Regions from separate parts of the Homo sapiens genome. Here region 1 is linked to region 2. A link means that fine-mapping ties the variant in region 2 to the expression of a gene that starts in the linked region. Tissue or cell type: lung. Region 2 holds a variant in brackets; the other region holds the start of a gene. All regions are shown on one strand. Distances are from middle to middle.

Region 1 (5,548 bases), 29 kb before region 2:
AAATGCACAACCAGGCCGGGTGCAGTGGCTCACGCCTGTAATCCCAGCACTTTGGGAGGCCGAGGCAGGCGGATCACGAGGTCAGATAGAGACCATCCTGGCTAACATGGTGAAACCCCGTCTCTACTAAAAATACAAAAAAATTAGCCGGGCGTGGTGGCAGGCACCTGTAGTCCCAGCTACTGGGGAGGCTGAGGCAGGAGAATGGCGTGAACCTGGGAGGCGGAGCTTGCAGTGAGCTGAGATCGTGCCACTGCACTCCAGCCTGGGTGACAGAGTGAGACCCTGTCTCAAAAAATAAATAAATAAATAAATAAATAAATGCACAACCATTATCCACCATCTATCTCTAGAACTCTTCTCAACTTGCAAAACTAAAACTCTGTAGCCATTAAACAGCAACTCTCTCCCTCCCCTCAGACCCTGGCAATCACAGTTCTACTTTCTTTCTTTCCTTTATCTTTTTTGAGACAGGGTCTTGCCCTGCTGCCCAAGCTGGGGTGCAGTGGCAGGATCATAGCTCACTGCAGGATCATACATAGCTCACTGCAGCCTCGACCTCCCAGGCTCAAGAGATCCTCCCCCCTCAGCCTCCCAAGTAGTTGGGACTACAGACATGCATTACCACACCTAGCTAATTTTTAAATTTTTTGTACAGCTGGGGGTCTTGATATGTTGCCAGGGCTGGTTTCAACTCTTGGGCTCAAGCCATCCTCCCACCTTGTCCTCCCAAAGTGCTGGGATTCGGGTGTGAGCTACTGTGCCTGGCCAACACAGCTTTGCTTTCTATCTCTATTAATTCGAATATTTTAGTTTCAAAGTGAGGGATTGGTTCACATTCCTCAACCTGTTTGTCGTCATGCTTTATAACTTGCATACACACACATATAAATTCTTTAGTATATATAAAATACTATATACCTTGTTTTTTTTGTTGCTGTTGTTGTTGTTTGTTTTTGAGACACAGTCTTGCTCTGTCACCCAGGCTGGAGTGCAGTGACACAATCTCAGCTCACTGCAACCTCCACCTCCCAGGTTCAAGCTATTCTCCTGCCTCAGCCTCCCTAGTAGCTGGGACTACAGACATATGCCACCACCCCCCACTAATTTTTGTATTTTCAGTAGAGACAGGGTTTACCCACGTTGGCCAGGCTGGTCCCAAACTCCTGACTTTCAGGTGATCTGCCCACCTTGGCCTCCCCAAGTGCTGGGATTACAGGCATGAGCCACTATGCCTGGCCTATATACCTTATTTTCTTAATGACTTGATATATGAAAAAATAACGACAATATCCAAAATTGGCTATAATATGGTAAATGCTAGCCAGCATGTAAATTGATACAATTTTAAAGACATTTAAAAATTAACACACAATTAGCCAGGCATGGTGGTGTGTGCCTGTAGTCCCAGCTACTCAAAAGGCTGAGGTGGGAGGATTATTTGAGCCAGGGGAGGTTGAGGCTGCAGTGAGCAGTGAGCATGCCACTGCACTCCAGCCTGGGCAACAGTGTGAGACCCTGTCTCAAAATAAACAAACAAATCAATAAATAAAAACTAAAACACAGCAAAATTGACACATATTTTATGGCTTTTTAGAGCAACTGTATTTTCAACTTCAATTTCTGATGCTCATTGCTAATACATAGAAATATAGTTTTTGTATCCTTGCTAAACTTATGTTCTAGGAGGTTTTGTTTTTGTTGCTGTTGACTCTGGGATTTTCTGTGTACACTATCATGTCTTCTGTGAACAGGGACAGTTTCTTTCCATTCTGTATGCTTTTTCTTTTTCTTGCCTTATTGCAAGGGCTAGGACTTCACGTATAATTTAAATAGGAGTGGTGAAAGTAGACATCCTTGCCTTGTCCTGATCTTAGGGAGAAAGCAATCTTTTACTGTGAAGTATGATTTTTAGGTGTAGGATTTTGTAGATACCCTTTATCGAGTTCAGGAAGTTCCCTTTTGTTCTAGTTTTCTGAGAGTTTGTACCATGAATATTGAATTTTGTCAAATGTTTCTTCCTGCATCAATTGACATGATCATGTGGTTTTACTTCTCAGATTGTTAATATGGCATATTACATTGATTTTTAAGTGTTTAATCAGCTTTGCATTCCAGGTTTATGTTTCACTTTGTAATTACATATTATTCTTTTTTTATGTATTGCAGGATTTGATGTGCTAATAATTTGTTGCAATTTTTGCTTCTATGTTCATGAGAGATATTAATCTGTAATTTTCTTTTCTTTGTACTACCTTTGGCTAACTTTGGTATTGACATAATCTTTTTGGAGGGCAATTTGTTAATTGTAACAAAAGTCTAAAATGTGCTCGCCTATGGATTCCACTTTGAAGAATTTATCTTAAGGAAATAGAGATTTCTATTACACACATACTTTGGGTTCAGGTAGACCTGGATTTAAGTATGAACCCAATCCTTTATTAACTGCTTAAATTCTGTGGGTCTGTTTCCCAATCTGTAAAATGGGGATAAGAGGACCTATTTCAGACCTTATTAACTGAGACAATTCACACACAGTGCCCAAGAACCAGTAAGCTTTAAGTAAATGGTAACTCTTGGTATTATGTTATACTCTCTGGCCTCTCTGTAGGAGGACAATTCTGTCCAAATCAGAGGATGTCATCTTTGCTTCTGTATTGGCTCCCACTTTGAATCTCCTTAATCTTCCTCATCTCTAATTTCGCCGTCTTCTGTTAGACGTGTTAGGCCTTGAGAATACAAAAGCAACAAAAGATATCGTCCTTGTTTTCAGAGACATGAACCTCCTAGACACAGGCGCAAACGGTACCAAGCAATGTAACAGAACAAAAGTGAGACGTCTGCCCAAGGGGCAGCCGACCCTGGACATGCATTCAGAGCGTCAGTGTCAGCTGACACTCGGGAGTGACAGCTCGGGCAGTCACCGAGCTGGGAAGACAGGAGGGAGTGCCGCAACTTCTTCAGTGTAGCCTTAAGTCGCGGTGAGGGGCGCGTAGAGACTTGCTGCTCCCATAGCAACGGGACCAGCCACCCTCTACAGGCCTGACGGGTTACTTCCGTTCACCGTCGGCTGAGCCAAGAAAGGCCGCTTCCGATCCTCCAGCCCCCGAGGCGCGGGGGCGCGCGGACGCCCGGTTATAACTGAACAACCCGAGCCCCACGTCTCTGATTGGCTCAGGCAGAGGAAGGGGGCGGGAGATCGGCAACGAAGGGCGTAGCCGGCTTCCACTCAAACTTGAGGTTTCCCCCCATCCCCTCACAGCGGAAGCCGACCTCGCCCGCCCCGGAAGTGCAAACTGTGTGGTCTGGCAGGTGTGGATTCCGCCGGTGAAGGCTGAAGGCAGCTACCTTAAAGATGCCGGGATCCGCAGCGAAGGGCTCGGAGTTGTCAGAGAGGATCGAGAGCTTCGTGGAGACCCTGAAGCGGGGTGGTGGGCCGCGCAGCTCCGAGGAAATGGCTCGGGAGACCCTAGGGTTGCTGCGCCAGATCATCACGGACCACCGCTGGAGCAACGCGGGTGAGGCCGGCCTGCCTCCGCCGGCGAACCTGGCCCCTGTCTGTTCCCGATCCCAGGGCTGAAAATTTCCCAGGCCTCACTTCGCGTTGGCTCCTCTTATCCTCTCTCTTTTGGACTGTAGGGGAGCTGATGGAGCTGATCCGCAGAGAGGGCAGGAGGATGACGGCCGCTCAGCCCTCCGAGACCACCGTGGGCAACATGGTGCGGAGAGTGCTCAAGATTATCCGGGAGGAGTATGGCAGGTCAGGCTCACGTCCTGGGCTCCTGGTTGGATCCAGTGACACTTTTTGCACGGGCCCCTCTACCTGCTCGGAGACTTTATTGGAGCTGAACAGCCCTTGTTACCTGCCTGACCACTCCTCCCCACCTCTCTCTTTGGGTCTTGTTGCCTCTATAGACTCCATGGACGCAGCGACGAGAGTGATCAGCAGGAGTCCCTGCACAAACTGTTGACATCCGGAGGCCTAAACGAGGATTTCAGCTTCCATTATGCCCAACTCCAGTCCAACATCATTGAGGCGATTAATGAGCTGCTAGTGGAGCTGGGTAAGAGGCCTGATCGCTGGGAAAATGGGACTGGTCACAGGCACATAAGGGAACAGAAGCCTCTGAAGGTTGTTCATTAGCAGAGATGGGAGATTAGCTGTCTTCTGGTTCTCAGAGGTTTGTCCTCCTTCCTGATTAGGAAATGTTGCAACAGGTGACAGGACCAAAGTAATCCTCTCTACTTTTCCTTACAGACCAACCCTTGATAGACTACAGATCTGTGGAGTGGAACAGACTCTATTAGGACAGAGTTTTATTTTCATTGTAAAGAAACAAAATGAACTCCCTAGAGAGCCAAGGTCGATAGACCTCCTTCACTATCTGAATTTTTATACACACGTACACGTATACCATTTCTATCCCCCTTGTCATTGCGGTCCAAGTGACTTGCAGATATTCATTGTAATCAGAGGATGAAGAAGCTGCTTCCAAATTGCTCCCCCATTTTTTCTTCTCTGGCCAGTCTCTCTCATGTAGAAGTGTTGTGGCCACCTTTTGGAGGAAGACTTCTTTTAGGCCGAAGCTCTCTTTACCCTATTCTCAGCACTTTAGGATTTCCCAGATTGCCATTCCTTGGCTGAATCTACTGTCTTCAAAATCAGTTGTAAGGAGCTCTGTAGTGACAGAGGTGGTTCATAGGTAGGGGTACTTCTGGAAGAGGGCAGGCAGAAAATCCCAGAGGAGTGGGGCTTTTAAGAAATTGTGACATAGCTGGGCATGGTGGCTCACACCTGTAATCCCACAACTTTGGGAGGCCAAGGTGAGTGGATTGCTTGAGACCAGGAGTTCAAAACCAGCCTGGGCAACATAGTGGGACCCTGTCTCTATTAAAAAAAAAGAAATTGTGACATTTCACTTTAAGCACATTAACCCTGTGGTACCAGGGTCTGCTAGGTGGGCAGTGCATGTGAAGGGCAGACATCTTTTTCCGTATACGCGTAATGTGTGTTTGTGATATAGCAATTTCATATATATATATATATATATATATTTTTTTTTTTTTTTTTTTTTTTTTTTTTGCAAAACCGTTCTTACAGAAGGGACAATGGAGAACATTGCAGCCCAGGCTCTGGAGCACATTCACTCCAATGAGGTGATCATGACCATTGGCTTCTCCCGAACAGTAGAGGCCTTCCTCAAAGAGGCTGCCCGAAAGAGGAAATTCCATGTCATTGTAGCAGAGTGTGCTCCTTTCTGCCAGGTAAGGAGACTGCTGGAGTTGCTACTAAGAAAAATGAAAAATGAAGAAGAAATAAACGAGAGATGGGTAGGGCCATTCCAACCTTGAATTGATAAGCAAGACTTTGAGACACTGAGAAGATCAAGTAAAACATTAAGTGAATTTTCAAGGTGTTCGTCCTGTGAACATTCATAAATAGTGGTTTAAGAAAGTTGGGGCCGGGAGCGATGGCTCATGCCTGTAATCCCAGCACTTTGGGAGGCTGGGCGGGTGGATTACCTGAGGTCAGGAGTTCGAGAGCAGC
Region 2 (5,548 bases):
ATATTACACACTGTATTCTTACAATTAAGTAAGCTAGAGAAAAGAAAATGTTGGCCAGGCGTAGTGGCTCATGCCTGTAATCCCAGCACTTTGGGAGGCCAAGGCAGGTGGATCATTTGAGGTCAGGAGTTCAATACCAGCTTGGCCAACATGGTGAGACCCCATCTCTACTAAAAATACAAAAATTAGCCGGGGCATGGTGGTGTGCGCCTGTAATCCCAGCTACTTGGGAGGCTGAGGTAGGAGAATCGCTTTAACCCGGGAGGTGGAGGTTGCAGTGAGCTGAGATTGTGCCATTGCACTCCAGCCTGGGCATCGCAAAAAAAAAAAAAAAAGAAAGAAAGAAAGAAAGAAAGAAAAAGAAAATGTTAAGAAAATCATAAGAAACAGAAAATATATTTATTATTCATTAAGTGGAAATGAATCATCATAAAGGTCTTCACCCTCATCATTTTCACATTGAATAGGCTAAGGAGGAGGAAGAAGAGGAAAGGTTGGTCTTGCTGTCTCAGGAATGGCAGAGGTGAAAGAAAATCTGCATTTAAGTGTACCTGCGCAGTTCAGACCCAAGTTATCCAAGGATCAACTGTAGATCTTAATTTGAGCCATATCTATTGATAGTTCCCTAAACATAGGATGTATCTCAAGTCTCTGATATGTATTCCTCTGTCTAGAATGCCCTTCTCCCCTCTTCTGTACTCAGCACTTTCCCACTATTCTTTTTTTCTTTTTTTTTTTGAGACAGAGTTTCACTCTTGTTGCCCAGGCTGGAGTACAATGGTGCAATCTTGGCTCAATGCAACCTCCGCCTCCCAGGTTCAAGCCATTCTCCTGCCTCAGCCTCCTGAGTAGCTGGGATTATAGGCATGCACCACCACGCCCGGCTAATTTTCTATTTTTAGTAGAGATGGGGTTTTTCCATGCTTGTCAGGCTGGTCTCGAACTCCCGACCTCAGGTGAACCACCCACCACGGCCTCCCAAAGTGCTGGCATTACAGGTGTGAGCCACCTTGCCCAGCCTAGTTTCCCACTATTCTGTAAGACTTTTCTGGCTGTGTGCAGTGGCTCATGCCTGTAGTGCCGGGGGTTTGGGAAGCCAATGCAAGGGGATTGCTTGAGGCCAGAAGTTCAGGACCAGCCTGGGCAACATAGTGAGGCCCCCATCTCTACAAAAAAAAAAAAGGAAAAAATTAGCCAGGCATGGTGGTGCGTGTCTGTAGTCCGAGTTACTTGGGAGGCTGAGGCAGGAAGATTGCTTGTGCCCAGGAGATCAAGGCTACAGTGAGCTATGATTGCACCACTGCACTCCAGCTTGGGCAACAGAGTGAGACCTGGTCTCTCAAAAGTAAAAACTTTTCTTAAGAAAACAGCTTTTCTGTGACATTTTCATTGACTTCACCTCCCCAGGCACACAAGTCATTCTGTGTTTCCATAACACTTCTGAAAAACTATCTTGGTGCATTCTAGACTCTTAGTTTTCATTACCTTTATCACTGGGAAGAAAGCAAAACACATACCTCTACTAGCCAAAGTTCACTGACTATAATTCTTTAAATGCCCTTCTTCCTTATTTTGAGCTAACTCATCTCTGAATTTCTAGCTCCTGGCACACCGCAGGTAAATACCATGAATACTTGTTGAAGAAAAGATGAATTCAGAGAATCTACAGACAAAATATGAGGTTACCATCACTCAGCAATTTCCTTAACATCTGCAGCTGTGTCTTACCTCCACAATACTCTTGGTCACAGTAGATCTTCCTCTCCGAAGTTCATTGGCTTCTCTTTCCACAAAACATAGTGGTACTTTTCCCACAAGGACCAGAGAATCACTAGTGTCTGGAAATACAAATTCAAGGCCCAGATCTTCCAGATTTTTGTGGTAACACCTAAAGAGATAACCTCAAATGTTAAAAAAAAAAAGAGTGCTACTTCATTTGCACTTCACTACTGGTTCCAAATACTACTTAATAGTTTTTCAAAAGCTGCCACAGGGCTTAACAACCGTATTGTTTTTCTCACACTTATGTGTGGGTGTTTGGGATTTTTTATTATCAAATTTCCTTTTTGAATTACAGTAACCTTTATTGTTTTTCTCTTTTCCATTGGGAATCAATCTGTGTCTAAGTCTTGTTTCTAAGTGTGTTTTCTTCATTGAGGAACTGCTAACTTCTGGCTGCTGGCACTTAAGGGAGTCTGGCATGAAGAAAAGGTCTGAGAGTGATTTGAATCAGCATTAAAGCAGGGAGGTAATTAACAGCCCAAGGAATTGAGAAGTCCTGACTAACGGGATGTAAGTAAATAGATCTGCCTCTAATATAAATTATGTCATAGGGAAAAAAAGATTTACTGGCAGTATCATATTCCCAAACCTGAAACATATTGGGAGAAATTTCTTTTTCATTTTCAATAATTTGTGCTGCCTAGAAGAGGAAAAATATCCTATCTTGTGACTCACTATATGATT[C/T]GCCCCTTCCTTACATCCCAATGTTTTACTTTCTTCCCATTATGATTACGATAATGAAAACTAAGAGTCTAGAATGCACCAAAGCAAAGCAGAATGGGACCAATTACTGCAGAAACTTTGCTTTCACAAAGCATGGCATAAACACAGACTGTTCCAAGAAATGAGAAGAGTGTTCTAAGCCAACTGCTGGAAAAAATTATCAGGGAAACTCTATCCTATACTCTTCAGCTGGGATACAGTGGAAAGAATAGGCTGGGTCCAGTGGCTCACGCCTGTAATCCCAGCACTTTGGGAGGCCAAAGTGGGAGGATCGCTTGAGCCTAGGAGTTCAGACCAGCCTGGGTAACATGGCGAAAACCCATCTCTACCAAAAAATTACAAAAATTAGTCCAGCATGGTGGTGCTCACCTGTAGTTCCAGGTACTTGGGAGGCTGAAGTGGGAGGACTGCTTGAGCCTGGAAGGTGGAGGTTGCAGTGAGCAGAGATTGTGCCACTGCACTCCAGCCTGGACAACAGAGTGAGACCATGTCTCACAAAATAAATATTTTAATGGATGATTGGATGCAGAAAAAAATATATTTTAAAAAAGGAAACAAACAGCCTGTGGAGTCAGACGACCTGCCTTTGAGTGCCTGCTCCACTACTTAATAACTGCTATGACCTTAGACAAGTCTTGTAACCTCTCTTGGTCTCATCTGAGAAATGGAACAATAGTTATGCTTATTCCTCACAGAATTATTGTGAGAATTGATACCATCAACATCACATTCTCATGGTGGTACTGACCATAAGAGTCTCCTTTGTTCCTCTGTCACTGTTATCTCTAGCGGAGGAATTAGAGTAGAAGACAGTAATTTTTTCCGACCAGAGCCTTGTGCCTGTTGCTTCTCGTAGGAATCTATTGGCAGAAAGATGAATGGGTTAAGAGTAGGAAGGGAAGTCTTCTAGATTCAGATAAAAATAAAGCACGGCCTTGAGATAATCATTCTAATGCAAAGCAGAATGTTTAATGTTCAGTTTTAGATTTTGGATTTCCATTTTTAAAGTCAAACTAATAAATATTCAGCCTATTAACAATTTTGGTAGTATTTTTCAAAATAAGAAATATAAGACTTGCATCTTACATTCAGATGAACAAGCCAATGTTCCTGTAGTTAATAAATGTTGTTTTGATGACAGAGGTGAATAATGTGGATTACCAGGAACATATGTGGGTTGACCACACAGTCTTATGGCTCCAGAAGGCTTCCCTTTCCTTGAGCAGGGTCTCCCAGTCTCTGGAGAGAATTAGTACTATTCTCAAATGGTGCAGGGCCTGTAGAGGTAAGTTTTTCTAACACTGTTTTTACTATATCTTTCCCAACTCTTAGGCCGTCATTTTATAAGGAAAAGTGAAAACAGTAGTAATATCATTGCCATTCTAGTCCATGAAGCACTCCTTAGGTCCTTGCCTAACTCTTTGACATTACTCATTGGCCACAGGAGTAAAGACTTTCCTGGTATTTTACCACTTGGTGAACACACTGCCTCATGATGAGGAAAAGGGTAGCAAAAAAAAACATTTAAAAAGCATATATTGCTTTGGAAAGATAGATTTAAAAACCAGAGATATTGGTTGTCTCTGGGGAGAGAAACTAGGAGGGGTGGGGACAAGGATAGAAAGGAGACTTTATTATATTCCCTTTTGTGCCTTTCAGAATTGGATCTATTTGATTATACTGCATATTCAAAAGCAAACTAAATTTTAAAATCAAAACAGCATACTGGGCCTTCTGAGCTGCCACTGGTCTCTGCCTGATGGAGTGTGGGAAGGCATGCCAAGATCACCGGGCATATGGAGGGGCAGAGCTTTGTGCTGGATGTCAGAGTAAGCAGCCTATCCTTGCGTACTTCTGGGTTGTTAATAACATCTGGCAAATATGCCTCTGACCACATAAATAAGTTCACATCTTTCAATTAGTGAACTACCACATTCTTTCAATTATAACACAGGCCAAACTGCAGGACTTTAGTTTAATTTTTGAACATACAGTACAAAGTGTGCTTTCTCACAACAGTTGCAGTTAGAAAAGCTCTTTGAGGTGTACTGATTCTGCTGGGAGTCTCAAATTTTTTCTGGCTGCAAACAGATCCTTACCAATGATAAGCTGCTCCAGACGTATACGCTCATGGGCAGCGTGCTGATCCACCAGCACGAGCAGGTTCCCACCTAGATGAGCAAGGATTGTGAACTTTGATTCTCAGAGCAAGACGACAACCATCATGTGTGTTGAGGACAGAGAAGACTTAATTCAAACTATCTAACAACAGCATAAGACAAAACATTCTGAGGAGTAACAATTGTATCTTTTATTTCCTAAAACATGAAATTATGGGGAAAATGATAGCAAACTTATCCCATATGTTTGAATCCCAGATCCAATTCTGAAAGGCACAAAAGGGAATTTAATAAAGTCTCCTTTATACTCTTGCCCCCACCCCTTCTAGTTTCTCTCTCCAGAGATTACCAGTATTACTAATTTTTATCCTATAAGTTTTATTATTTTCCCCATAATTTCATTTTTTAGGAAACAAAAGGTAAACTAAGAAACTCTTTAGTTCACCAGCATCTCATTTAGAAAACATAGTCAGGGCTGGGTGCAGTGTCTCACACCTGTAATCCCAGCACACTGGGAGGCTGAGGCGGGCGGATCATGAGGTCAAGAAATCGAGATCATCCTGGCCAACATGGTGAAACCCTGTCTCTACTAAAAATACAAAAATTAGCTGGGTGTGGTGGCACGCGCCTGTAGTTCCAGCTACTTGGGAGGCTGAGGCAGGAGAATCGCTTGAACCCAGGAGGTGTAGGTTGCAGTGAGCCGAGATTGCACCACTGCACTCCAGCCTGGTGACAGAGTGAGACTCCATCTTAAAAAAAAAAAAAAAAGTCAAAGTGGCATTTCCTCAAGTTTGAAGCTTGAATATATAATTCTTATGTTTAAATACTGATTTTGCCTTATTAATTCAACTTTAATATGATAAAGGATCGTTAAACAACACATTGTTATAATCAGCTAACCTTGGTGTACAAGCTACTTGGAA

What was found. PIP is the estimated chance that this variant, and not a neighbour inherited with it, causes the effect.
Region 1: it holds the start of EIF2B2, and the variant in region 2 is fine-mapped to the expression of EIF2B2 in lung (TOPMed, PIP 0.90).

The regions. Positions count from the first base shown.
Region 1 is chr14:74,999,636-75,005,183 of GRCh38, forward strand. It overlaps EIF2B2 (eukaryotic translation initiation factor 2B subunit beta), which reads left to right and starts at 3,286. Exons shown (of 8, transcript NM_014239.4): 1 at 3,286-3,518; 2 at 3,640-3,760; 3 at 3,916-4,064; 4 at 5,102-5,265. The coding sequence starts at 3,356. RefSeq lists enhancers at 2,833-2,922, 2,964-3,644.
Region 2 is chr14:75,028,815-75,034,362 of GRCh38, forward strand. MLH3 (mutL homolog 3) reads right to left here. Exons shown (of 13, transcript NM_001040108.2): 7 at 4,605-4,676; 8 at 3,254-3,365; 9 at 1,729-1,888. Among named protein-coding and RNA genes, the nearest start is that of MLH3, 20 kb to the right of the region's middle. The variant C/T (reference allele first, on the strand shown) is at 2,467.